Linked DNA regions of Homo sapiens. The protein of the gene in region 4 interacts with the protein of the main gene of each other region in a pairwise test. Each region holds a gene or a part of one and is shown on either strand. Other genes may lie near its edges. The genes, in order: GRAP2, AVPI1, ZNF212 and PRKAA2.

Region 1 (7,024 bases), on a different chromosome or scaffold from region 4:
TCGAACTCATTGTCGCATATCCTCACCGCAAGGAGGAAATGGCCATTCACACTTATTCCTATCTTACTTAGGAAGATTGAGGCCCACTAGTTTGTCTAAGGATGCAGATTCATCCACGGTTGCAGAGAATTTATGGATAGGAAAGAGACAATGAAGTTCTGGCCCTTTAGAGGCCAGAGATCCATCATGAGATTAGCTGCACCAGCAGGTAAGTACTCACCTGCAGGGAGGGGAAGCTAATACCCTAGCTCTGAAAGATTTGGACAAGTTGTTATCAAAATGATCGAGTGAAATAGAAATAAATGTCTTTACATTTAAACCTCTGTCCTAGGGTTTTTTTTTTTTTTTAAATCAACAGTGTAAGTACAGAATAAGAAAGATCTGGCTGGGCATGGTGGCTCATGCCTGTAATCCCAGCACTTTGCGAGGCCGAGGCAGGCGGATCACAATGTCAGGAGTTCAAGACCAGCCTGACCAACATGGTGAAACCCCGTCTCTACTAAAAATACAAAAATTAGCCGGGCGTGGTGGCGGGCGCCTGTAATCCCAGCTACTCGGGAGGCTGAGGCAGGAGAATCACTTGAACTCACGAGGCAGAGGTTGCAGTGAGCCGAGATTGCGCCACTGCACTCCAGCCTGGGCGACAGAGCGAGACTTGGTCTCAAAAAAAAAGAAAAAAAGAAAAGAAAAAGAAAGAAAGATCTGGCTTAGTAGTAGTGCATGGGAACTCATGGGTTTTAGTTGACCACAATTTCGATATGAGTCAGCAGTGTGACATGGGTGCCAAAAGGGCTCATGCAATCATGGGCCATATTAATAGAAGTATAGGCTACAGATCAAGGGAGGCAACTACCCCATGGTGTTCTGCATCCTCAGATCACTCCTGGAGAGCGTTGCTCCGTTCTGAGTCCCGTGACTTAGGGGAGGCCCTAAGCTAGAGTCCAATCAGAGGCGGGTGCTTAAAATAATGGCAGCACGCAAAACTGCCTCATAGGAGGAGTGGTTACAAGAACTAAGGATATTTATGCTTGAAAAAGAAGACTTTGAGGGACATGATTGGAAGCAGGGGAAGAGCAGGCTATCTGGGAAAAGATCTTGAGGTAATTTCCAGTGGCAGAAGTTTAGTTTCTGGATTCCCCATGGAAACTTCACATGGCTCTTCTGACTCTTTGTTGTTTGCAAAATAAACAGATCTTCAGCAAAGAAGACCCTGTTTCTCCTATGATTTCCTTGAAGTGTAAAGCTTTGTGGATGCATTGATGCCTGCTTGCTAAACCATCTCTCTCAGCCTACAGATGCACCTCCTTCAAGAAGTTCTTTCTAAAAATCTCCATCTTGAGCTGTTTTTTAATCTCCTCATCAGTTTTGCATTGTGGTACCATTTTTTTGTTTGTTTGTTTTTCCTAGTTTCCCAAATACACTGTTCATTCCTTAGGGGAAAGGACCCAATGTTTTTTTTGCTTTTATTTCCCAAAGTGTTCTCAGTACGTCTGCATACCTGTGAGCTAGGGACTGAGTGAATTTCTGCAGACAGTAGCCAAAAGATGAATTAAAGTAATCAGACAGGTAATTTTTACAGCATCTACAAGACGAAGCATTACAGCATGCTTTCTTGATAATAATAACACCTAATTGACCCTTCACTTTATGAAATAATATGATCTGACAAAGTAGGCTGTATCATAAATCTCCCTTACGTCTTACATTTAAAAATGGAAGTTGTGGATCTTTGCTGGAGAAAAAGTCTGCTCTCTAAAAGCTCCATCTTTTTTGTTCCAGGTATTGGGAATTTCTTTTCAGCTAGGGGATTCCTTGACTTCACACTTTCTCCTTCTTTGATTATTTGGATACTTACAGGGTACCAAGTGTCAACTCATAAAATCTTATAGTACCCGGTTTATAAAATGAATTAGTAGTCTATTTAAAAATATTGATCTAGAAAATAAAAATTCCACAAAATGAGTTTGTTTACACAAGAAAGCACCATGTTCTGCATTGTACAAATGAGATATTGTTGGGGGTAGCCACACATGAATCTTCAAAAGTCTCTTGTATAGTGGGTTAAAGAATGGCATAATTTCACTCGAGGACAGAGGAGTCGATGAGGCACAGTGAGTCATCTGTGAGGCTGAGCACAGAACACAGGATACGGGAGCCAAGCTCATGCTCTGTCACTCTCATCACTGGTCAGTATAACCTCCCACAGTCCAGTGACCTGACACGGTACCGAGCAGATGATACTGTCTGCAACAAGTTGATCTAACTCCACTTGCCAGCCTGAAGTTCACTTAGAAAATTTGAAGCACAAAAAGACTGAGACACAGGGGCCCAATTTCCTATCAACACCTGTTAATCACAAATATTAGCACTTAGCTTGGATGACTCCAAAGGCCAAGGGAGAGTGGTGATGTCCTCCCCTAGTCTCAGGACTTCTGCATTCACAGCTGCAGGCCCTCTTGTGAGTCTCCAACTTCCAAGAACAATTCTGGGACATTAAAGGATATAACTGTTCGTAATAAAAAATCAAGGAGAAGGTTTTGTACCCTTTGAAAGGCATAACCTCTTTAGAAGGATAAGGATCTATCAGCCCAAAATAAGCCCATCAGCATTATTTACTTCCATATGACTCCCTGAACTACCCAAGAGGGGTAATAAAATCTCATGGGATGTCTGCCCATTGCAGAGCACAGGGTTGGAGTATAATTGATGTGGACAGTCAGCCCTGCAGCAAGTGAGGCAGCCAGCGGCATGACACCCAAGCAGCCCACAAAGGCACTATTGAGATGTTTGTAGTTTCTAATGGGATTTGGACATTGCAAGGGAATCCGTTAAGAATTGGATGCCAGCTCTTATGCCCTACAGGGAAGGGTGAAGGGTCTTGCCATCTATGGCAGAAAAGGTCATTTCCCTCTGTTCCCAGACCCAGTGGGATTAGGTGGTTTTCTGCAGAAAATCAAAGGGCTTCAGAGAACACACAGTCTAACCTCTCACTTGACTAAGGAAGAAACTGAAGCTCAGGGAAGTTAGGTGACTTGTTTAAGATCACGTGGGTAGCTCTGGTAGAGCCAGAATTCAGCTTTCCAGAAGCCCATCGAGGGCTCCTGCATCTCCAGAATCCTGTGTTTGGACCAGTGTTGTGGAAGGGGCCCAGCCTACAGCGTGACAGGCTTGGTGCTACGTCCCGGCAGACATTAGCAAATTACCTTGAGCAAGTCCCGGAAACTCTCCAAGCCTTGCTTTTCCCACTCTGCAGAATGAGAGGTAAAATCTGTGGTCTGTCTACCTCAAAGATCATAGCCAGATCAAACAAGATAATGGCAACTCTTTTTATTTACTTATTTATTTTTTGAGACAGGATCTCACTCTGTTGCCCAGGCTGGAGTGTAGCGGTGTGAACACGGCTTACTGCAGCCTTGATCTCTTGGGCTCAAGGGATCCTCCTGCCTCAGCCTCTGGAGTAACTTGGACTACAGGTGCGGGCCACTGGGCCTGGCTAATTTTTTAAAAGAATATCTTGTAGAGATGGGGCCTCACCATGTTGCCCAGGCTGGTCTCAATCTCCTGCGCTCAAGCAATCCTCCCACCTTGTCCTCCCAAAGTCAATGAGCCTGTACGACAACTCTTTTTAAAGCTCCATCAGGATCAGTGTACAATAACTCTAGAGAAAGACAATTTTTCCTATTCAGGATATATGGGTGGACACCAGGTGATTTATGATGGATGGACACCAGAATTTCCCACGGAAATTCTGTACAAAGTTGCGTAGGATAAGTGCTAGGCATCGTTGGTTTTTTTTCCCCATTGGGGAGAGTTTTCATAGTTTTCGTTGACATCTTGAATGTGTCTGTGACACTCCCCTTCCCCCACCCACCCCACCACTGCCAGTAAGAACCTATGTGCTATGGATATCAGCGTATTTATGGTCAACTTAAAGTACTGATATAAGGTATTAGATTTAGACAATTTTCTTAGTTGTCTCAATGTTTGGTTGAGATTCTCCTGTTATTCTTACCGATTTAATGATCTATATTTTCAAACAAATCTATTTAGCGGAGGAGAGCCTTTTCAGCTATCAGACTTTACATTTTGTTTTATAAAGGGTTAAACTGTGTGACCTATAAAATGATGAAGAGAAATTTCAAATTACAAGTCAGCCAGGCTTTCCACCCCACTTTGTACTTCCCTTGTAATATTTCCTAGTTATTTAGAAAGAGTTTCTTTAAAATCATATTTAACAAGAGAACTATCTACTTATTATTTACTGAGTTCCTACTGAGTTCTCAGCAGTTTGTTTCTAATATTTTCCCATAAAGCACTAGACAAAAAACACAAATCATGAACCATTTGTAGGCCGACACATTAAGCCCGTGGTTCTAGAAGGCTGGGGGGTGTGGAGAAAAACAAACGAAGAAGTATTATTCATGACCAATTGATCAATTAGGCTGCTTTTCATTAAAAAACATAAAAAGGCAGAACCAATTTGGCAATGACTGTGTTGGAAATGCAAAAAGAACCATTATTAATGCTGGATTTTTTTTTTCTTATTTATTTTTAGTTCTCTTTAGAAAATTACACTTGAGAGCTTTCTGTAATGGCCACTGAAGGAGTGGATAAGATTCAACTCAGCAGTCGAACCCTTTTGTAATGCTAATGAAGGAGCATGGACCAACACCTAGTTTATACAGCTTTTTCTCAATACAGTTTCAGAAGCCACAGGCTGACTTATGGAATATCTGAGTGTATGAGATAACCAACCAGGGAATTTACCTACTAACAACAGTCATCCATCGTCTCTTAAGGAAATCCACCATGGCCTTTTATAAATCTGACAATGGCTTATACTCTTGCGTTTTATGGTAAAATCTTATATAGTACAGAAATGTGAAAAATGAGAGGAAATTTCTCCCTCCTGATTATATCAAAATATCATCTTCCACCCCGAGGCTCTGAGGTCCCAGGTCTCATAACTCCCCGCTTGTATTGTTCCTTTCAGGGATTTTTTCCCCCCATTACTTCATAGTTCTCCTACTCTTTTCTGTTCCAAGTATTTTATGTTCAAGGTTTCTTGTACAGAGCCTTAAGCTATGTAAATGTAATAAGAGTACTTATCTGGGCTTAGTGGAATGCTGTTCTTATTCAGATGAATTAAACCTTAAATGTGTTTGGGTGGCAACCTCCCGGATTTTCAATAACTTCAAGTCTGAGTGTGTGTGAGGGCTACTTCCACTCAGCTCCACTTGTATCACTCCTCACTGCATGTGCCCATCATCAGAGAGAGTGCTCAGGAACCAGACAGCCTGGGTTCAAATCCTGGCTCCACCAGGTACTAGTTAAGTGACCTTGTGCAACGTACTAGACCTCTCCGTACCTCAGTTTCCTCATTGTGAAAAAAGGGTATTATTAGCACTTTCTTCATTGCACCATTAGAAGAAGTAGACGAGTTAGTACCTACAAAGTATTAGAACAATGCTTGGCAAATAACAATAATAACAGGCACTGTTTTAGGAACCTTAAATGTATAAATCGTTTACTCTTCAGAACAATCCCACGAGATAGGCACCATTAGTAATCCCATTTTATAGCTTAAGAAACTGAAGCACAAAAAGAATAACTCGTCCCAGTTCATTCGCTTAGTAAGTGAAAGACTGGGCTCACACCGAGGCTGTCTTGGCTCCACAGCAAGCACTCAATAAACATTACCTACTATTATTATTATTACCTGAACTTATGCACTCAATAAATATTTCCAGCCACTATTGCTGCTGATAATGATGAATTTGCATGTCGAGTCCATCTTCAAAGCGTATTAAAAATATATATGAACTCCAATGAAATAATCAATTTAGGCAAAGATTATTACCTAAAGTCACCGGGTGAGAGTTTGTTGGGAAATAGGATATTGCCACCATGCCAAAGTGTTTATGAGATACACTTTGAGATACCCCCTGAGAGTACTCGCTAATTGCAAAGGGTGAAAAAGTGCCTGTACAACAAGAGATCCTCTGAGCAAGATCACTACCTCAAGCCCTGATCAAACTTGGCATCATGCACAGTGGAACAACCTGGCATTCTGTACCTCCTGATAAGATGCAATATGGAGCACCCAGTGGCACCTTGCAAAAAACGTTCAATCAAAATCAAATCATGCTTTTAGTCCTAACTTGGAGCTTATGAGAAATAAAGTGGGTAGAGGAACAAATTAACCATGAGGCAACAACGAATTCAGAAAGTGGGACCTGGTACAAGAGAACTGGCGTAATCTTTAAAAACATCCAATGTTGAAGAAAGAAGCATGAGACCCAACTGCAAAATATGTTCTTATTTTTAAAAATTAGATTCTTTTTTTAAAAAATGGTATAGAAGACATTTGGGGGACAAATGGGGAAGGTTAAATCTGCACTAGCTATCAGATGATATTAAGGACTTACTGTTTATCCTCTTAGGCCTAATGATGGAATTGTGGTTAGATAGAGGAATGCCTTTATTCTTAGATGAGTACTGAATTATTTAGGAGTGAAGTATTATTTTATCTGCAACTTACAAGTAATTCAGAAAGAAATAGGTATAGATGGAGCAAATACGGCAAAGAGTTAGCAATTGTTGAACCTAGGTAGTGAGTACTAATATTTCAACTTTTCTTTATGTTTTATGTTCAGTTATTTTCTCACTATCTTTTCTTTTCTTTTCTTTTTTCCTCTTTTTGAGACAGGATCTTGCTCTGTCGACCAGGCTGGAGTGCAGTGGCACGATCTCAGCTCGCTGAAACATCTGCCTCCCGGGTTCAAGCAATTCTCGTGCCTCAGTCTCCCAAGTAGCTGGGATTACAGGCGCCTGCCATCATGCCCGGCTAATTTTTGTATTTTGGTAGAGACAGGGTTTCAACATGTTGGCCAGGCTTGTCTCCAACTCCTGACCTCAGATGATCTGCCTGCTTTGGCCGCCCAAGTGCTGGGATTACAGGTGTGAGCCACTGTGCCCGGCTGTTCTTCACTATCTCCTTAAGGTATGTCTTAACATTTTCTTT
Region 2 (7,446 bases), on a different chromosome or scaffold from region 4:
TTTGAGACAGGGTTTTGCTCTCGTTGCCCAGGCTAGAGTGCAGTGGCACAATCTCGGCTCACTACAACCTCCACCTTCCAGTTTCAAGCGATTCTCCTGCCTCAGTCTCCCAAGTAGCTGGGACTACAGGCGCCCATCACCACGCCCAGCTAATTTTTTTGTATTTTTAGTAGAGATGGCATTTCACCATGTTGGTCAGGCTGTTCTCGAACTGCTGACCTTGTGATCTACCCGCCTCAGCCTCCCAAAGTGCTGGGATTACAGGCGTGAGCCACGGCGCCCAGCTTGTACCATTTTTCTATAAGGACTTTGCTATTTTTCGCCTGTCCAGATTGTCACTTGATAGAAGAGGGCTATAGTCTAGCTGCCTTGTGTAATGTCATAAGCAGAAGGGGCTTTCTTAAAAAGTTTAGAATGCCCATGATTATTTATCAAGAAAATCAGAGTTAATTCAAAAGTTGCACTGTTGCATGTCAGTTGAGTGTAAAAGTTCTCTCTGCTTTGCCCAGAACAGGACAAATAGCAATAAGAAACCCATGGGAATAAGTGTCAGCCCCATTAGGGAACCATAACTGTCCAGCTGCTTGAACCATTCCTGCAGGATAGAAAGAGGGAAGGAGTCCAATGCTGGTTTAGTGTCTATAGCAAGGTGTATATTAAGAACTCAGCCTACAGTACCTCAATTCATCTTCACAGCAACACTGAAAAGTGGTGTGATTATTCTCATTTTAAAGACAAGAAAAAGAGGCCAGGTTGGGTGGCTCACGTCTGTAATCCCAGCACTTTGGGAGGCCGAGGCAGAGAGATCACGAGGTCAAGAGATAGAGACCATCCTGGCCAACATGGTGAAACCCTGTCTGTACTAAAAATACAAAAATTAGCTGGGCGTGGTGGCACACGCCTGTAGTCCCAGCTACTCAGGAGGCTGAGGCAGGAGAATCACTTGAATCCGGGAGGCAGAGGTTGAAGTGAGCTGAGATTGGGCCACTATACTCCAGCCTGGTGACAGAGCAAGACTCTGTCTCAAAAAAAAGAAAAAAAAAGACAAGAAAATAGGCAGAGGAATTAAGTCATTTGCTTAAGGTAAAACAGCTAGAACCCCCTTCCTAGACTTTACTTCCTTTGAGGGTAAAAACCAGTACTGAGTTGAACCATATTCGAGCCCAAGACAAAAGAAAAAATATATGTCCTATATGCACTTACCTTCCATATTTTGAACCAAATAGAACAAGTGGATAAAAGCATTCCAATAAAAAAAAGACTACATATAAAGTTCCATGTTATTCAATCTGTTCACATGTTATTGTCAACTCTCATAAAGCCACTTGTCAGGACACGCAGTGGCAGTCTGCCTGGGAACCATGGGCTGATTGGTAATGACTGTTCCCATTGCAAAATAATGCAAGGTCATAAACAATAGTCTGCCTATATTTTAAATGTTGATATTCTGTTCATCATGGATTTTTTGCATTAATTTCGATTTTTAAAAATATTGTGTTAAGATATTATTTATCTTGGGTTTCCTGAATTTTTTGGTGCCCTCTTAAATTTTATGCCTGAAGGGAGTTCCTCACTAAACTCACTTTAATCTAGGCCCCTGGGTAAACTCAAGTTTGGGCCTGAATTTCATGAGGTTTCCATTCCCCAGAGTTGACTTTCTCTAAACAGGGCCCCGTCCGGGGTGATTACTGTCTCCAGCACCATTCTGTGGGTCTCAGATGTTACTCCACTTCTGGTGAGGCTTACATGGCCCACACAACTGTGGAGTGCCCCACCTTCTCGCCAGAAGTATTGAATCACAAAGCTGTAACAACAGAAATGGTTCCATTGTGTGGTAAGCACATGGTCACATGCCTGCAAAAATGTTTGGAGATACCAGATACGCTCCACCCAGCCTTAGTCACATCTGAGCCAGAAACCACAAGTTCCCAATTCCTACCTCGGGATGCTCATCTAAGCTCATGGCATCAGAGTTCCTAGGTTCACCCAGCACTGATATGCCAAGAGTCTGGCTTCCCCATTGGTTAGAATGGGCCAGTGGGAGTCACTGGCTCAGAAGCTCAGCCTTTGGTTTAGGAGCCTGCACAGTCCCCTCCTTAGCAAAGTAGTTGGCTGAAAGTCTCTGCACCAATACTTTCCACTGGAGACGAACATCGCTGATTTCTTTGTTCTTTTCAACAGTTCCCCAGGGCTTGAGGAAAAGTGAAGAGAAGCCACTGTAAAAACCTTTTTAACGGGCCGGGCGCTGTGGCTCACGCCTGTAATCCCAGCACTTTGGGAGGCTGAGGCCGGAGGATCACGAGGTCAATTGATCGAGACCATCCTGGCCAACATGGTGAAACCCCATCTCTACTAAAAATACAAAAATTAGCCGGGCATGGTGGCCTGCACGTATAATCCCAGCTACTCGGGAGGCTGAGGCAGGAGAATCGCTTGAACCCGGGAGGCAGAGGTTGCGGTGAGCCGAGATCGTGCCACTGCATTCCAGCCTGACGACAGAGTGCGCCTCCGTCTCAAAAAAAGCAAACAAACAAACAAAAAAACCTTTTAGCGGCCGGGCATGGTGGCTTACGCCTGTAATCCCAGCACTTTGGGAGGCCGAGGCAGGTGGATTACCTGAGGTCAGGAGTTCAAGACCGGTCTGGCCAACATGGTGAAACTGCATCTCTACTAAAAAATACAAAAATTAGCCAGGTGTGGTGGTACGTGCCTGTAGTCTCAGCTACTCGGGAGGCTAAGGCAGGAGAATCGCTTGAACCCAGGGGGCAGAAGATGCAGTGAACTGAGATGGTGCCACTGCACACCAGCTTGGGCAACAGAGTGAGACTCTGTCTCAAAAATACAAAACAAAAAACCCTTTTAGCCACAGCACAACAACACTTACGCTGTTTTTGTGCAGAAGGACAGAGAGAGGAACTGGAGATCATGGGGTGAGGACAAATAGCTCCCAAGCATCCCCTTCACGCTGCAACAAGGAATTCACAAAGCCCCATGTGCTGGCTCTTCCCCTTCCCACCCACAACTTTTACAGAAGAAAAATCAAGCTTAAATGGATAAGAGGTCAGCTATGAAGTAAAAAGGAAGTCAGGGAGACCCAGGAGCCTTTCCTGAGCATTGCTGAACAAGTGCACAAACACTTCATCTTCCAAGGACAAAACAAGCATTTATCAGAGGCCTACTGGACACCCTGCCTCCACTCCTGCCCCCTCCAATCCAAGTTCCAAACTGCAGCCAGAGTGACCTTCTAAAAACACAAACTTGTCATGATGATGAAATTTGCAAAGTGCTGACTGACACTACTGGTACGTGGTAAGTACTATAAAATGCCCGTTACATAAACACAGTACATATAATGCCATTCCTTGTTTAAACCCCTCCAAGGATCACATGCAACCTTCTCTGCCTGCCTCTGCCTTCTACTTCCCACCGTGCTCTCTCTTGCTAGCCTTACTCCGGGTCGCATTTAATTCCTCCGGAGCCAAGCTACCTCCTGGCCCAACCAAATGCCTTTCCCTCTTTCCTTAAAGCAGTCTCCCCAGATCCACTCCTCTTCATTTGACCAGTTTCAACTCCTTCTTTATATCTCAGCTTAAATGCTGCTTCTTCAGCCCTCCTGAACCTCCCAGAGGAAGCTTAGGTTCCTCCATATTTATCCTCTTATAGCCATAACATTGATCACAACTGTAATCACATACTCCATGTTTTAGGTTGTTTAATGCCTGCCTCCCTTACTAGGCTGTAGACTCCCCAGGACAAGGGCTATAGGTCTTTCCGTCTCTCTTGTTTACGGCCTATCAAGGAACTCGGACAGCATAGGTCACTAATGAACATTTCCGAATGCATACAAACTTTAAAATACGGTCTTGTTTAGGTAACCGGCCCAAAGTCGCACAAATGACCCAATATTTGAACCCACGACATTCTGGCTTTGAAGCCCAAGGTCTGACTCCAGCAGACTGCCCCCTCCTCTCCCTCAAAGCCGGAGCCAAACGGTGGGCTGGGAGGGGACTTGAGCGGCAGAGTCTGAGGATCTGCAGAGGGCCACGCGCTGCAAGGCAGTCAGTGCCGCGCGCGCTGGCCTCGGGCCCAGGAGAAGGGGCATCCGTCACGTGTACCCGGCAGGGCCAGCTTTCGCCGCACCCTGGGGCAGGAATGCAGCCCCGCCCAGCTCCCGCGCCAGCAAAACCGCGCTGGCCCTGGGGACTGACGTCAATGAAGGGGGCGCCTCGGGCGCCGCGCGGGGGCGGAGAGGGCGGTGGGCAGGGCCCGGGCAGACACGCCCCCTCACCGCCGCTCCGCCGCCGATTAGGTTTGAGGAAGCTTCGCACTCCGCTTTCGAGGCCAGCGGAGGCGGGGGGCGGGGATGGACACGCCCCCTCCCTGTCTCCCACCGATGATTGGCGCACGGAACTCCGCCTTGGGTTTGGAAGGCTCGCCTGGGAGCTCATACCTGGCTAGGGCCGAGGATTGGCTGTTCCGGGGCTAGGGAGCGCTTTCTCCCGGGAACCGCGGCTGTGACCCAAGTGGCCCGGACCAGTTTGGGGCTGCGTGCGGCCTGCCTCAAGCAACCAGGTACGTAGGTCGGCGGCCCAGCTCGGCGCTGCGGTGGGAGCCGGAGGGCGACAGTCAGAGCCGGGGTGCCAGCGGGACGCGACCGCCAGATCCACTTAGGACCCCGTCGTTCTGCGAAGCGGCCACGTCTGAGTCCCGGGGCCTCCTCGTGCTGCAGATGTCGCCTTAGGACCTCGGCCAGGATACCCTCTGCCATGCTCTTGTGCTGCCCGTGATCACCGACTGGCCCTTGTAAGCACCTTCGCAGAGCTGCGCCTGCCCTTTCTGAAGGCTGTGGAAGAGGTTGGAGTGGGCGCATCTTAGCTTGCCCCATCCCCATTTGAGGTCTGTCGGAGCTGCCCTTCAGTGTGGTGAGTACCTGCTCCAATTCTCCACCGGGCAGTGGAGTGCAGAGGGTACAGAGGCTAGCTTGGGAGTCCTGACTTTGGATCCCTCCCTGCTCCTTCCACAATCTACAGAAGCAGATAGCCTCCGAAAGGCTTCTGGGACCGACCTTCCCCAGAAGACCTCCTCAGCCATCTGGCAGGAACAAAAATAACAGTGGCTTGAGAGCCCGGGTGCTGGGGTCAGACTGCCTGGGTTCATGTCCCAGCTTCCATCACCTGCCAGCTGTGTGACTTTGGGTGTAGCTTTCTCATCTGTAAAATGGGTATAACAATAGTGCCACCTTAAGTGAGGAGGAAAGAAAGCACCCATCTGAACGTGCTCTGTTCTGCGCTTGACACTGAACAAGCTGCCTCTATGATTTTAATCATAAAGCTATGATTTAAAAGTACACAGATTTGTTGATGGCTGTGATGATGAAAATGACAATGATTCTATAGCCCCTGGTAGTCAAACAGCCTTTCCCTTCATCATTTATTCATTCAACCAGCATGCATAGAATGTCTGTGGTATACCAGGTACTAGAAGGAATGCCGTCACAAACTTAATCTCCCTTTTCCTGTTAAGAGTTATTTATACTCACCATTTATTTTAAAAAGCTTATTTAAAATTTTATAGAGGCAGTCTTGCTATGTTGACCAGGCTGGTCTGGAACTCCTGGGCTCAAGCAATCCTCCCACCTCAGCCTCCCAAAGTGCTGGGATTACAGGCGTGAGCCACCAGGCCTGGCCTTATACTATTTTGATGACGAGCAACTTGTGGCAGGGGAAACTGAGACTTATCCAAGGTCACCCAGTTAGCAGCACAGCCAGAATTCAGGGTTCTAGAAATCTTGAAAGGGTTATCCCTAGATCTAGTAGCAGTTTATTTCCAGGTCATATATGAGAACTGGTCTGGGGAAAGGGCCCAGTTCCTTTCTCCACCTCCAGGGGCATGGATTTGGAGGCCAATGTATATCCAGTTGTCTCGGCATACCTCCCTGAGGCTAGGCCCTGCTGGTGGGGAAGCCCACACAGCGATTTGAACTGGGCTTCCCATTTGAGGAGCCACAGATTTTGGCTGCTGTCCAGTGGCATGTCTGTATAGGATAGCAGGCCAGGGTCCCAAGTGTTGATTCAGGCCTTGGGCCAGAGCCTCCAGTAATTTTTCTAAGAGCCCCTAGGCCCCTGATTACAGAGATTATTGCTATCACCTGGGTTATTGGAAGGGGGCCTCCTCCTGCATGAGGACCTAGGAGTTGCCAGCTCACCCAAATGTGTTCTGCCTCTGGTGGTTACCTGTGCCTCCCTGGGACTGCAGTGAGATACTCTCCTAGAATAGCTGTCTGAACTGAACTTCATATATTGCAAAGAGTGCTCAATTGCGCGCCATATTTATATATTGCAAATTCATTGCATGGTGAGTCACTTTTTAAATATATTTCTTTGTTAGGGTTCCACAGTTCTTCACTTATTGCCTGTTTCAAAACAAGTTGAACTTTGTCATTTTCAATGTTTGGTATTTCCTTTGGGGTTCACTTTCAACCTAGTTTGTGTCAAATTGAAGTATTTTGCAATTGGTCTTTACTCGTTTGTACACAGACCCATACTTACCTTCTTTTATGTCAGTTCTGAAATGAAAGGTCCATTTGTAATCTTTTAATAGCCCCATGGTTTCATTTTCTAGTTTTCAAAAGTACTATTGTGCAAGTATACACTGACTTTTCCTGGACTAAGGTCTTCTCCAGGAAATTGGAGGGAAAATAACTATTGAACACATGGAATGAGACAGGAAAAGTTTCCTTTGATAATAAAAGTGTTCTGATTCGACATTTCATCGGTTTTCCCAAAACTTAACCATCTAATCCTACCTGGAATCAGCCTAGTTTTATTCCCAGCCTCACTCTGCTGTCTGAATCCCAGAATAAGAGACAGAGCCAAGAGTGAGGGGCTTGGCCGGTCATGGTGGCTCACGCCTATAATCCCAACACTCTGGGAGGATGAGGTGGGTGGATCACTTGAGGTCGGGAGTTCAAGACCAGCCTGGCCAACATGGTGAAACCTTGTCTCTACTAAAAATACAAAAATTAGTCGGGCGTGTGGTGGGCACCTGTAATCCCAGCTACTTGGGAGGTTGTTGAGGCAAGAAAATTGCTTGAACCTTGGAGGCAGAGGTTGCAGTGAGCTGAGATTGCGCCACTGCACTCCAGCGTGGGTGACAGAGTGAGACTCCGCCTCAAAAAAAAAAAAAAAAAAGAGTAAAAAGAGTGAGGGGCCTCAAAATCTGGAGGTGCTAGGCCCTCCCTAAGGTTCAAGGAGGGTTGAGGCTGGAGGCTCAGACTCTCCCTGAGGGTTTCTTGGTATGTTTGTGACTCGCAGCTCGCTGAAGCTGTGGAGTCAAAGCCTTGCCATCCTGGGAGAGGTTGTTGGGAAGTCAGGCTCCAAGCCATTTCCTCCCCGAGGCAGCTGCTGCTACATGATCCTTATTGCCCTTCTTTTCCTGGGGAGGTGA
Region 3 (7,839 bases), on a different chromosome or scaffold from region 4:
GGATTATAAACTTTTTTGAGAAAAAAACAGGCATACATATATGTACTTATATAGGCTAATATGTATGCTATAAATCATACACATGATACAAATTTAAAGGATAAGATAATTTTTGTGTGTGTGAAACAGGGCTTTATTCTGTCACTCAGGCTGGAATGCAGTGACGTGATCACAGCTCACTGCAACCTCGACCTCCTGGGCTCAAGTGATCCTCCTACCTCAGCCTCCCGAGTAGCTGGGACTGCAGGCGTGTGCCACCATGCCTAGCTATTTTTTTTTTTTTTTTTGTAGAGATGGAGTCCCATTATGTTGCCCAGGCTGGTCTCCAACTCCTGGCTTCAAGCAATCCTCCCACCTCAGCCTTCCAAAGTGCTGGGATTACAGGCATGAGCCACTGCACCTGGCCAAGATAAATATTATTAAAACATTATTTTAACAATGTATATTATTTGTTTGTTCAAAGAATACTTTTTTCTTTCACTAAAAATGAGGGTCTGGGGTGAGATGATGTCTAAGGTCATTTTCAGCTCTGCATGTTGCATTCATATTCTACAAATGTAGAGATGCCAGGCTACAAGTACTAAATGTCTATTTTCTTGATTCTTGGAATACCAATGCTACTAATGGGAATAACTGTGAACTTCATTTAAAAGTTTTTTAAGCCGGGTGTGGTGGCTCATGCCTGTAATCCCAGCACTTTGGGAAGCTGAGGCGGGCGGATCACGAAGTCAGGAAATTGAGACCATCCTGGCTAACACAGTGAAACCCTGTCTCTACTAAAAATACAAAAAAAAAAAAAAAAAAAAAAAATTAGCTGGGCGTGGTGGCGGGTGCCTGTAGTCCCAGTTACTCAAAAGGCTGAGGCAGGAGAATGGCGTGAACCTGGGAGGTGGAGCTTGCAGTGAGCGGAGATCACGACACTGCACTCCAGCCTGGGTGACAGAGAGAGACTCTGTCTCAAAAAAAAAGAGGAAAAAAAAAGTTTTTTAAAACGGACTGGGCGCAGTGGCTCATACCTGTAATCCCAGCACTTTGGGAGGCCGAGGCGGGTGGATCACTTGAGGTCAGGAGTTCGAGACCAGCCTGGCCAACATGATGAAACCCCCTCTCTACTAAAAATACAAAAGTTAGCTTGGCGTGGTGGCACACACCTGTAATGCCGGCTACTTGGGAGGCTGAGGCAGGAGAATCGCTTGGACCTGGGAGGCGGAGGTTGCAGTGAGCCAAGATTTCTCCACTGCACTCCAGCCTCGGCAAGAGAGCGAGATTCTGTCTCAAAACAAAAAACAAAAAACAACAACAATTTTTTTTGAGATGGAGTCTCGCTCTGTGGCTTAGGCTGGAGTGCAGTGGTGCAATCTCGCTCACTGCAAGCTCTGCCTCCCAGGTTCACACCATTCTCCTGCCTCAGCCTCTGGAGTAGCTGGGACTACAGGCGCCCGCCACCACACCTGGCTAATTTTTTGTATTTTTAGTGGAGACAGGGTTTCACCATGTTAGCCAGGATGGTCTCGATCTCCTGACCTTGTGATCCGCCTGCCTTGGCCTCCCAAAGTGCTGGGATTACAGGCGTAAGCCACCACACCCGGCCAACAACGTTTTTTAAAACAGCATATGTCAAGATTTGAATGTCAGTTGGAAAAAACAAATGGGTAGTTTCTAAGAGACACAACAAAGCCACATTTATCCTGCTGAACTCATTGCAATACAAGGCTTGGACCTTGCAAAAGTAAAGCAGAGAGAAGAAATTGCCTGTTATCAAGTGCTTGCTGTATGCCGGGCACTTGGCTACATAAGCACTTTACATAAATTCTTTCTTTTAGTTCCATCAGCAACCTTAGGATGAGGTGTTCACATTCTCAGTGGAAGACAAGGACACTAGGGCAGAGTGAGCATGAGCCACAGCACTTAGTAAATGAAGGATCTGGGACTAAACAACAATAATGATCATGAGTACTTCTTGAGCTCTTCCTCTGTGCCAGGTACTGTTCTAAGCACTTGACTTGAATTCACTCATTTAATTCACACAACTCTATGAGCTAAGTACTGTTATCTATTCACCAATAATCATGAGGAAACAAGTACTAAGAAGTTAAAGACCTGACCAAGTTTCACATCTAGTAAGTGGCTGTGATGGTGAATACTGAATCAACTTGATCGCATTGAAGGATGTAAAGTATTGATCCTGGGTGTGTCTGTGAGGGTGTTGCCAAAGGAGATTAACATTTGAGTCAGTAGGCTGGGAAAGGCAGACCCACCCTCAATCTGGTGGGCACAATCTAATCAGCTGCCAGCACAGCTAGAATATAAAGTAGGCAGAAAAATGTGAAAAGACTAGACTGGCCTAGCCTCCCAGCCTACTTCTTTCTCCCATGCTGGACCCTTCCCACCCTCGAACATCAACGAACATCAGACTCTAGGTTCTTCAGTTTTGGGACGCAGACTGGCTCTCCTTGCTCCTCAGCTTCCAGATAGCCTATTGTGGAGCCTTGTGAGCATGTGAGTTAATACTTAATAAACTCCCCTTTATATAACATTATATATATATCCTATTAGTCTGTCTAGAGAAACCTAATATACTGGCAGTGCTGGGCTAGGGACCCAGACGGTCTCACTCCCCAGCCCCACTTAGCAAATCACTGTGCCACACTGTCTTCATCAGCCCGGGGGACTGCAGGCGCCACACCATCTCCACCAGCCCACGTGATTGCAACCCTGGTGCCTGGTGCTGCCTCCTTTGCAGGCTGGAAATTTGATCTGAACCTTTTTCCAGACTTCCAGGCTCAGAGTCTGGGATGCTGAAACATGCTCATTTTCAAGAGACTGAGGTATACATGTGCATCAGCTTCACCTGCATGTTGCCTCCCAGAAGCTACCTGGCAACATGCAACGTCAGAAGGTTGCCTTGTGAGTATAGAAATAGAATAGAGGGAATGAGTTCTACGACCGAACTGTTTAATGACCTCAGCATCCTATGTCCTGATATTGTGCCTGTGGAGGATAACATTTTTATTTTATTTTTAAAGACAAGATCTTGGTCTGTTGCCTACGCTGGAGTGCAGTGGTGCGATCGTGATTCACTGCAGCCTTGAACTACTGGGTTCAAATGATTCTTCCACCTCAACCTCTTGAGTAGCTGAGACTACAGGTGTGCACCACTACTCCTGGCTCATTTTAATTTTAATTTTAATTTTGTAGAGACAGGGTCTGCCTATTTGCTCAGGTTGGTCTCAAACTCCAGTGATCCTCCTGCCTTGCCCTCCCAAAGTGCTAGGATTACAGGCATGAGCCACCTCACCCATGACACATTTTTTTTTTTTTCTGTATCTGACACCAAGAGTTTGTTGGTCTGAGAGATTAGGTCAGACCCTCTGGACAGGATCTCCCTGACTGACCGGTTTCTTCAGCCTGGCCCATTCTTTCTCTAGATTTATTAATGATTCAGTGACGTGCCCGTTGATCTAGTTGCCCTGGAAATAATGCCTCTGTTTGAGATGACATTTCATATCCTTACACTCTGATTCACCATTCAATCATTTACAAATATGAACACTTCTGTGTACAACAAATGGAGGATACAGTAGACAGACATTTCAGTGGAAGAGATACAGATAATTAATATGTAAATGAGTGAAAAAGAGAGATTACTTCAGATGGTGATAAATGGTATGAAAAATTTCCAGCAGGGTAACGAGATTGAGTATTGAGATGGAGGATGGTGTGGGGCTGTAGAAAGGGGGGACTGGGGATATCTCTCTGAGGATGTAGAATCTGAACTGAGCCCTGCATGTGAGGAAGGAGCCAGTCATGATCTTAAAAGTTTCGTTCTCCGCCGGGTGGGGTGGCTCACACCTGTAATCCCGGCGCTTTGGGAGGCTGAGGTGGGCGGATCACCTGAGGTCGGGAGTTTGAGACCAGCCTGACCAACATGGGGAAACCCCGTCTCTACTAAAAATACAAAATTAGCCAGGCGTGGTGGCACATGCCTGTAATCCCAGCTACTAGGGAGGCTGAGGCAGAAGAATCGCTTGAGCCCGGGAGGTGGAGGTTGCAGTGAGCCGAGATTGCGCCATTGCACTCCAGCCTGGGCAACAAGAGCGAAACTCCATCTCAAAAAAAAAAAGTTTCGTTCTCAGAGGAAACACTTCACGCCTATCCTGTGAAGTGGAAGTTCATTGCTTGTCTCCAGAGAGACAATGGTATAAATTAGGCAGCTATGGTTGCCGTAGTGTTGCTGGTATTGGGGATTAAGTACATGGCGATTAAATGGTCATGTGGCCGTGCTTTCCAACAAAAATTCCAGACACATCGTCTTACATGTAGCATGAGGACTGGAAATATTTGAAATCAGGGTTGTCTTGGACTTTCCAAGGCACATGATTACCATAATTAACAGGCTACAGAGGGCTGGCCTGGGCCTGACCCCACGCTCCACACTGTTGATATGGAAACTGTTCCCAGTTTCTAAAAAGCCAAATAACAGGTGAACTTTTGGAATAAAATCACTTGCCTTTTGGAACCATATTTCTTTTCCCCAACAACATTACATGTTCTTTCCTCAGCAAAAAGTCTGAGTTGTACACATTTTTGAATCCCTCAAAGCATTTAGCAGAGTGCTGGGCATACGGAAGACAGCAGGATCCCGTGGCTTTGCCTGAAACGCGGAACCTGGTCTTGACTTTTGAGTGACTGAGCCCTCCTGGTGCCCGCACTCTGGCCGGGAGTGCCAAGCAGCGTTCTCCCTCCCGCCGCACGGGGGCACAATGGGAAGCCTGCACAGTGAGGAAGAGCGGCTGGAGCCGGTCTTGTGCCGGGGAGGTCGCTGCTCCCAGAATGCACCTGGCATCAACACGGCGGCGGCGGCGGCGGCTTCCAACAGGCTCTGGGGCGCCGAGCGGACAGGAACGCAGCACGGGGGCTCCGAGGCGGGGTCTGGGTGTTGAGGGGCGACTGGAGCCATGGCGGAGTCGGCGCCTGCTCGGGTAAAGAGGCACCGGCGCGCTGGCTCGAGGGCGCGTTGGGGATGGCGGAGTCCCCTGCCGGGGGCGGGGCTTCGCGGTTTGGACGCCGCCGGGGTCTTGGTTTCCCGGGGCTGCCGTTGGCGCGGGTGAACGCGGACCCTCCTCTTCGCGACCCCAGTGCTCTGCCCTTTTTTCCCTCCGCTTCCTTCTGCAGCGGGGTCGGAGCCTCGGCGCCGTGCGCCCTTGCCCAGAAACTTCTCTGACGCTTGCTTTAGGTTGGTGGATTTGTGACCCTGCCCACACATTTTCTCTTTCGTGCCAAAAGAGCCCGTTCCCAGGTTGGAGTGTTTCCAGATTGGAAACGGTCTCCGTCGCTACGAGTGAGCTCTCCCGCTGCCCGGGAGACCCCAGGACTTGCCTCTCTGCGACCACCTCCTCTTCGGTCCGATGTGTTGTCGGTTTTTCCAGTGCTGCAGATTTCTGTCTGGGGGTTGCAGCCACAGGTTGAAGTCAGCCTGGGCTGCTTCTCCTTGGGGACGGATGTTATCTACAGTGCAGTTGCTGCATTTTGTTTGTAGAGCTGCCCAAACTCTCTCCTTCACCCCCCCCCCAACACCCCCCTCCCAGCCCACCGACCATCCCCATTCTGGGAATGTCAAGATACGGAGTTTGGTGTGAGGAAAATCCTATTTGTGGAGTCACGAAGCTTTCAGCTGTCCATTTGGGTGATTTTAGGCAACTGTGTTCGCTTCTCTGGGTCTCTTTCGTTTTCTTAACTGTAAATCGAGAGTGTTGGAGTAGTTGCTAGATGATCTCCAAGGCTTTAAGTTTCCTTCCAGCTCCGACATTCTCATACTGTTCCCATACTGTTTCAAAGTAGTGGTTAATTTAACAACACCAGAGGGTTTGCAACGGAAGGGGCAGCTGGAATTGAATTGACTTTTAATGAAGTGTTCCTTGGTCTAGAAACACTTCGAGAATCATGTTAGATCTTTGTGAGAATGGAGGGCTAAGGAAATTCTGTGGGGAAAATTTGACCATGAGCAGGGTGCGCTATATTTGATTCTTGTAGAAAGTGCGTTAAGAACTAAGAACGGAGAGATTGGGAGACTTAGAGAACACAGTATTTGCTTTCAAGGAAGTTAACAGTTGAATTGGGAAGACAAGACACAAATGTTTACAATATTAACCTCATCTGACTCCTATAAGCTAGGCTGAGCCAGTCAAAGACTTGGCTTTTCCACAAGATCTAGTTAGTGTTAGAGTCCGGCGAGAGGATTCTGCCACAGTTCTTCCTGCCAGGTCACTCCACAATTACCTACATGTCGTCAGTAGACCTTGTTAGGAAGAAGCCTTAAAGGTCCACCACAGGCCAGGCGCAGTGGCTCATGCCTGTAATCCCAGCACTTTAGGAGGCCGAGGAGGGCGGATCACGAGGTCAGGAGTTCAAGACTAGTCTGGCCAATGTGGTGAAACCCGGTCTCTACTAAAAATACAAAAATTAGCCGGGCGTGGTGGCGGGTGCCTGTAGACCCAGCTACTCGGGAGGCTGAGGCAGAATAATCGCTTGAACCTGGGAGGTGGAGGTTGCAGTGAGCTGAGATCGTGCTATTGCACTCCAGCCTGGGTGACAGAGCAAGACTCTGTCTCAAAAAAAAAAAAAAAAAAAAAGTCCACCACAATCCCAAACTATGCCTTAAATAACATGAATCTGTCGTTGTAGAACTTATTCAAATTGTTCTTGAGCCTGTTTCTCTTCTCAGACATTTCAGGTGTCTGTCATTTAACAGTAAGCTCAAGTAGGTGCCCTGATGAAACAACTGAAAATGCTGGAAAACCCTGCACATAAATGCATTTGAAATGTATTTTAGTAAAGAATACTTGGAGCCCCAAAACTTAAGCGAAAGAGGAAACTCGAAAGTGATAGAGTTCTGAAGCCAACTTTGAGGGCATTGGCCAAACATTCATCTTTGGTGTTTATGATTCAAGGGACCTGCAAAATGGAACACACATCTCAGAGCCTAAGATGGAAAGTCTAAGAAGCTCCCTAACCCAATCCCATGAAGCAGAGAGTTCAAAGGGTAACATTCTGTGTAAGGGTGAACTGAAAGTAAGGTCTGACCTTCAGATGATTGCAAAGTAAGTTGTTAAACCTTGGCACTGAGATTACAGGCGTGAGCCACCGTGCCTGGCCATAGTTTCGTTTCTTTTCTTTCTTTTCTTCTTTTTCTTTTCTTTTCTTTTTTTTTTTTTTTTTTTGAGAGAGTCTCGCTCTCTTGCTCTGGCTGGAGTGCAGTGGAGCAATCTTGGCTGCCTGAAACCTCTGCCTCCCAGGTTCTAAGCGATTCTCCTGCCTCAGCCTCCGGAGTAGCTGGGATTACAGGCATGCGTCACCATGCCTGGCTAATTTTGTATTTTTAGTAGAGATGGGGTTTCACCGTGTTGGCTGGGCTGGTCTCTGAACTCCTGACCTCAGGTGATCCACCTGCCTCGGCCTCCCAAAGTGCTGGGATTACCACTGCATGAGCCACCGCACCCGGCCTAAGGCAGAGGGAATTCTTAAAAGCAACCAAAAAAAAAAAAGACTACCTTGAAATGAAGTACAGCAAAATGAATGGGGGCCAGCTTCTCAACAGCAACCATGGAAGCTAGGCAAAAGTAGAATGATATTGTCAATAGGCTGAAAGAAAGTAACTGTGGTCCCATAGTTTTATATGCAGCAAAAATGTTTCAGAAACAAAGATGTAAAGAAGACATTTTTAGACAAATTAAAAATGACAGTTTGCTACCAATACACTCTTAGAAAAGGAAATTCTAAAAGATATACCTCAGGTAAAATGAAAATTTTCCCAAATAGAAAGTCTGAAAATATGAGAAG
Region 4 (7,024 bases):
AGACAGCCCCAAAGCAAGATGTCCATTGGATGCACTGAATACGACTAAGCCCAAATCTTTAGCTGTGAAAAAAGCCAAGTGGCATCTTGGAATCCGAAGTCAGAGCAAACCGTATGACATTATGGCTGAAGTTTACCGAGCTATGAAGCAGCTGGATTTTGAATGGAAGGTAGGAAATTATAATGTAATAAGATCATTTGTAGAAGCCATTTTTCTATATTATAAGCTGCTCTGAGCTCCTGAGTTGAGTATTAAGCCCAACTTTTTCTAGTAATATGCTATGCACATTAAAAACAAAACAAATAACCTCTATAAGGATGAAAAGTGGTTGATACTGGGAACCAACATATTTTGAATTATAGAAGTGTTCTTGGTCAAGAAAAAAGTAATCAACTAGAAATCATCTGAGAAAATAGCTTACCAGTTTCAGCATGCATCATAGCAATGAAAAATCATGAGTGTCTTCAAAGATAGTATGTTTTTACTTTCTCTTTTTTTTTTTAGGGAGGTTATTTTTCTTTTCTCTTTTTTTTAGGTGACAGAGGCAGGTGGCTGTAATAGCTAGTGGTTGATACAAATTATATCATCAGGACATATTTATTCAGTCAATAAACACTTTTCTCCAAGTTGTGATATTCTCTTTTATTTGGCTAGTGCTTTTAATACTTAGAGTACATTTTCCTTACTCTCAGCCCACAGTTTGCTTTTCTTAAAAATTAGTGCTCAATTTCATTTGAGTTCTATTTGAATATATGTGTGGGGAGGGGCATTTTTTCTTTTCAGATATGCCTTTCACTCTTGTTCTTTTCTTGAGGATTGTGAACTTTTAAAGGAAGAAGAAAAATGTGCAAACTTACCACATAAATATGCATTTGACGTGTTCAAATAAATCAGTCATTTTCATTTTATTATTTGTACATGAAATGAATATTTTCTTAAAATCATTTAAAAAACAGATCTCTCTGTTTTGGAGCAGTCTTATTTAGTTAAAAAAGAGACGTTAACATTTTTAAAATTCTGTACTGAAACATTTTGAAATTAGTACCACAGATGTTTTGAAAACCCAAAGCAGTGTTGTTTTTTTGTTTATTTTTTGTTGTTGTTGTTTGTTTTTTTGAGACAGGGTCTCACTCTGTTGCCCAGGCTGGAGTGCAGTGGCGCGATCTTGGCTCACTGCAACCCAGGGTCAGGCTATCCTCTCACCTCAGCCTCCCTAGTAGCTGGGACTACAGGCGCCTGCCACCACACTCGGCTGATTTTTTTTGTATGTTTTTGTAGAGATGGGGTTTCACCATGTTGCCCAGGCTGGTCTCAAGCTCCAGGGCTCAGGCGGTCCACCCACCTTGGCCTCCCAAAGTGTTGGAATTACAGGCGTGAGCCACTGTGCCTGGTCCTCTTTGTTCCTTCTACTCCATAATCATCCATGAACATGTTCAGGCAGAGACTGGACAACCAAATTAGAATTGATGTTTTAGAGTTGATGCTTATCTAGAGTGAAAGCTGGACCCTATGTAATCTCTGGGTTCTCTTTAAGTTTTTCCTTTATCTTTCACTTTTTTCTTCAGTACCCCAAATTTATTCAAGTAGCTTTTCCTTTAAATCTTAATTGCCATACAGTACTGCTTAGTGGGGATTAAATAAATACTAAAGTGAACTACCAGTAATATAAAAAAATTATTCGTATTCCTTTCCTACCTCACCCCTATTAATTATTTGTTTTGACTTTTTTTGCATAAAAAGGTAGATATTTTGTAGTTTATTATTTTTATTGATTTTTCACTTTAGGTAGTGAATGCATACCATCTTCGTGTAAGAAGAAAAAATCCAGTGACTGGCAATTACGTGAAAATGAGCTTACAACTTTACCTGGTTGATAACAGGAGCTATCTTTTGGACTTTAAAAGCATTGATGGTAAGGAAGCTATGCATGCATGAGCTCTGAGAAGATAAAACTTGGCACTAGTTGACCAGATGTTAAAATCATCTCGAAGACATCCGGTGGGTAGGTCCTGCACTGGTTTTTAAGCAATCTAGACTTAACCAAAATGTAAGTGAAGTGAAAAGGATGAAAGACATGTTGAATACCTCTTACCTGGCATCTTTCCACAAGAAGTATCTCCGTGGCGTAAAAGAATCATTTGAAGTGTTGGCCGTGGAGCACAAGTAAGGAACAACAGGGAAGCAGGTTTTACTTTTCAAAATTAACTGACTTGTCAGATTCTTTGTCATATTTCTCCATTCATATTTTATTAGTTAGTATTATAGTGTCTAAACTTTCTCCTTCATCACCTTTCCTCATCCTGGGTGGCCAGGGCGACCAAATAGGTCTCCATTGGGATTTGGGTTGGATTTAGGTACCCATGGCAATCAAGGAGCCAAAGGCGTCAGGGAAAATTGTCATGTCCAAGAACTTAGTGTGTGCCAAGAATTAAACTTGGGTAAACCAAATCTGATTATTCATTTCAGAGGCCCAAGTGGGATAAAACCAGAATAAACTAAGGGTCAGGTGCTGGATGGAACAAGAATGGAACGGAGTTTAGAGTTAGGGAAGTTGTTTTAAACGAAGCATTTAAATTTTACTCTTGAACTACCATCAACTATGTATGGTAGTGTTTATATGGATCCCAGACCTGTTTCATCGAAATTACATGTTGTTGTTATTAAAACGCAGATCCCTGGGAACCACTCCAGACCTATTAAATCAGAATTTCTGGAGATTGGTCCTGGGAATCGTAGAAAATGCAGTTTTAACAAGATTTCTCTCACTTTGCCCTCCACCTCCCCAAGGCAATATATGATGGTGACTTTTGTTTTTACCTTAGTGATTTTTTTTGTTGATATGCTAGAAGAAAATAAGTTGTCAAGGATATGCTTTCTTCACATGCAGAGATATCAGTTTGATTCCAATATCAATGCCGATTACTCCAATTTGAGCAGGACTTAGGGGCCACATTTTGACTGTGTGCAAGTCTTGTGATTGGTAGCGATGTTTGTTATGATTGTTGGAAGGAAGAAGACTGTGTTTCTACAACACAGAAACATGACATTCATTATTAAGTTGCCCTTGCTCAGATGTGTTTACTTAATATTCTGAATATCATAAATTCATAGGAAGGGCTTGGGCATATATACTTTCCATATAAATTGCTCTTCTTTGGTCCATTTCAGATGAAGTAGTGGAGCAGAGATCTGGTTCCTCAACACCTCAGCGTTCCTGTTCTGCTGCTGGCTTACACAGACCAAGATCAAGTTTTGATTCCACAACTGCAGAGAGCCATTCACTTTCTGGCTCTCTCACTGGCTCTTTGACCGGAAGCACATTGTCTTCAGTTTCACCTCGCCTGGGCAGTCACACCATGGATTTTTTTGAAATGTGTGCCAGTCTGATTACTACTTTAGCCCGTTGATCTGTCTCTAGTTTCTTTCTGTTATTGCACTATGAAAATCAGTTATATTCTTTAAATTTTTATCTTACTTTTGGATAATATCCACTGCAATACTAATTGAGAAACATGAATTATTTCCAGGGGCACACAATGCTATTGAAATTACTGAAAACAAAATATCTGACATCTTATTTACTTGTAGAAATCTGTAATTCTATTGTGCCTATGATAAATTCACATAGGCAATATCTTTAATAGGTTAATATCAATGAAGATTTTTAATTACAATAATGAGTTCACTACAGACGATTAACACACCACACTGGCGAACCATCTCAATGTAAGGGTGGTTTGGCAACACCTCCTTGCTTTGCTGTTTGGTGTAGGTAAATCTAGTTTACTTCCTAAATTTCAGTAGGCTTTATGCTGTGTTTATGCCCCCAATTTATTTTAACAAAAGAAGATTAAAAAGTAAAAGAACCACGAGTAAGATATTATTTAAATGTTGAAATCTTAAAAACCTGCCTCCAAGATTTCAGAAGCCAAGTTTTTCTAACAGTATTTGTACAAATACTGCCTAGTGTATTCAACAGAAGGACTGTGGTCATGTAACAGGTAACCACAATTTTCAGGTTTCTTAAAAACAGCTGTAACTAACTCAGGATTTTTATCTTGAGATTTCCCTGAATAATATATTTATCTTAAGAGCCTTCAAGTTTCAAATTAATATTGGAACATCTGGAATTGCAACAACTTTTGTCTTTTACATAAACTTACGTCATTTAAAAAATGTCTTCAAAATCTACCTTTCTCAAATTCTTTTTGCCTCTATTTATTTTTGCATTTCACCAACAGTGATAAAATAGTTAAATGAAACAAAGCAAAGTATCAACAGTCCCTTAAATGAGAATCCTTATCTTTGATCTTTATTTTCTGTGTTAGGTGTTAGGGTCCTGGTGCAGCTCATAATGCTAATTCTTCATTGGAAGCCACTCCCTTCACCTCACCTCACCTAGTCACTATTGTCTTTGTTCATTGTTTGATCCTGAGTGGTTGATTGATATAGCTTTGAATCTTTTCTAGTCCAAGTTTGAAAACACTGTTCTGGCCCTAAGGGCTGGCTATGACCTTTACTGTTGAACCTGATAGGGCAGGGAAGCTTTGAACATCAAGAAAAAATTTTTATCTTAAATAAATAAATATATATATTCACACACCAGTGCTTTTAAGCAAAAACCAGTTTTTTTGTTTGTTTGTTTTGCTTTGTGCAGGTTTTCTTTAAGATTAAAAAAACACAAACTATAGCAGGGTAGATAATAGTTTATTGATTATATTTTGTTTTAGTAAAAGTATTTAATTTTAAATTCTGTGTAATTTATCTAATTTGTATTTATTCATTTGTTATTTTTATGTTGTAATTAACACTTATTTACCTGGATTACCCTAAAAAAATTAAGCTCTTGAAAACAAAAAAATGACATTACCTTGACAGGCTTCTCTTTGCCAAAAGTAATGTATGTTCTGCCAAGAAGCAAATGAGAATGTTAGACTAAGTTTCTCCTGTGTTAGTGGAAAACAAGTGTGTCTATCTTTAAATATTCTTTGAATCAGGAGTTTGCGTTGTGTCACATCATATGGCTTTGCAGATCTTTTAAAAACTGATGTTAAATAACTTATAAGTCCAACTTCTTAATATCAAGATAAATGAATAGTTCACCAATTTGGGAAGGAGGGCGGGTTGCAATTTGAGATAGTTTAAGGTTTAATTATTGAAAGACTGCCATCTTGTGGCACCAAAAGGTAATTTTTACATGATTATTTGTATAGTGATAAGCAGTCCTGCTGTGTTAGCCTGGTCCATTATAGATATGGCATAGTTTTGGGTTCTCTAAATGGGTCCATACCTCTTTTGGGAAAAAACAGGGCCACCTCATAATATTTGCCTGATTATGAATGGAATTACCTTAGAAATAAGGAACTAATCAGATTACTTAACCCCAATGACAAAATCCACAAAAATTTTGAAGGCAGAGAAACAGAAGGAATCCAGTGATGTTTTAGCTCCATTAGTCTAATAGGTCAGATATTAAAAAATTGTTCATATCAAAATTACCTTATATGGATTATTGCCATGTTTTTTGAGAGTTAATTATTTACTGTTTTCTAATTCTTGCCAGTATTTATGAACAGCTGTAGCTTGATATTTACCTACTGAATTTTAGGAGAACTAATGGTCACAGTTTGGGTTCTTTTATGTGTATGTTTTTAAAACAGCTATTTTGTGAATCTAGGTGGTTGGTTTTTAGAAGATTTCAGGAGATGCAGTCCAGCACAATTAGAGCTGGAACATTGTTACAGCAGGCTTTTTGTTGCTCATGGGCAGATAGAGGGAAAGAATCAGTTGTTAGCCCCAAATTTCCACATTTCAGTGTTGTAAACTCTGAATGTGATAGGTAGATGTGGGCTAAGAATAATTTCCTCCAGTGAAGACACGGGAGAAGAGCTTCTATTATGAGGTTATAGATAAGGCCTTAGTTATATCATGGAAATGGACTCCATGTAGTTCTAGAACTGCATTTCCCAAAGTATATCCTGTGAGATGCTCCACAGAAAAAATGATTGCATGGACTAAGTTTGAAAAATGTTGCATGCTACTCTTCCCCTCGAAGATGACAGTGGATGTCAGCATTAAAGACTTTGACAGGTCTTTCTGTGAAAAAAAGAAAGCCACATAACTTTGTTGAACTTTGCCCAAATTAATTTTTCATTTTAAAAAACTTAATAGCCCATGAAAAGCAAATTTGGGAAATACATTTTTTAGGAAAATACTGTCCCAGAATGCCATAATTAGGGTAGTTAATAATTAACACTTCCATTTCTCTTACTGGTTGTTGGGAGAATCTGATTGAAAATTAGAATTACTTTGTTTTAACTTGCAGACATGTTCATCGTGAGTGAATGCTGGATTAAATAGAATTTTCTGTGTCTGCAACTTGTTTCATGACACCTTGGTTTTCTTAATCATCTTGTATTATTATTTGAGTGCAACATTATTCTTATGCATGGGTGACTGAAAAACCTGAAACAAGATTACTTGTTAAAAAAAAGTCTAAGAGACTAATGACTCATGCTTATGGCTCAGTGGGTAATGAATCAGTGTCACTGATTCTTACTTTTAAAATGTGTAGTCAGTGAACATTTTCTAAATACTTTTCTTTGGGATACCATATGAAGATCTAATTCCTTATGTTTCAGTGTAGGAACAGCTACCTTCTCAAATAGAATATGCAGGGAGGGAAGTAGGCAAACCATTTACAAGTTGGGTTTTTGTTTTGATTAACCTGTTAAGAGACACTTTTGTAATCTCTAGTGTTTACATTCCTTTATACTAGCTATCTATAAAGAGAATCCAGAAGGCTAAATTAATCAGAAATAATTATATTTCTATGTCAGGGTATTGGCTATATGTAGCATGAACAATTCTCCATTTTCTGCAAATGGGTTTTTCAGGACAGTTTTATAATTCTGAGTTTGCTTTTTCTTATTCCCTAGACAGTTTGTACTCAGGGAATACAAATTGATTTTTACTGTTAAATGAGACATAGTTTAGAAAAAATCATAAGCAACTATTGTAGATT

The links.
Region 1: the proteins of PRKAA2 (region 4) and GRAP2 interact in binary tests that used the Homo sapiens proteins (3 or more experiments, as listed by UniProt).
Region 2: the proteins of PRKAA2 (region 4) and AVPI1 interact in binary tests that used the Homo sapiens proteins (3 or more experiments, as listed by UniProt).
Region 3: the proteins of PRKAA2 (region 4) and ZNF212 interact in binary tests that used the Homo sapiens proteins (3 or more experiments, as listed by UniProt).

Annotation. Positions count from the first base shown.
Region 1 is NC_000022.11:39,904,066-39,911,089, reverse strand, and holds part of GRAP2 (GRB2-related adapter protein 2), read right to left. Parts: intron 1-7,024. UniProt on the Homo sapiens protein: Interacts with SLP-76 to regulate NF-AT activation. Binds to tyrosine-phosphorylated shc.
Region 2 is NC_000010.11:97,684,242-97,691,687, reverse strand, and holds the start of AVPI1 (arginine vasopressin-induced protein 1), read left to right. Parts: upstream 1-4,446; 5' UTR 4,447-4,922; intron 4,923-7,446. UniProt on the Homo sapiens protein: May be involved in MAP kinase activation, epithelial sodium channel (ENaC) down-regulation and cell cycling.
Region 3 is NC_000007.14:149,234,821-149,242,659, forward strand, and holds the start of ZNF212 (zinc finger protein 212), read left to right. Parts: upstream 1-4,830; 5' UTR 4,831-4,958; coding exon 4,959-4,982; intron 4,983-7,839.
Region 4 is NC_000001.11:56,704,307-56,711,330, forward strand, and holds part of PRKAA2 (5'-AMP-activated protein kinase catalytic subunit alpha-2), read left to right. Parts: coding exon 1-169; intron 170-1,785; coding exon 1,786-1,912; intron 1,913-3,168; coding exon 3,169-3,407; 3' UTR 3,408-7,024. UniProt on the Homo sapiens protein: Catalytic subunit of AMP-activated protein kinase (AMPK), an energy sensor protein kinase that plays a key role in regulating cellular energy metabolism.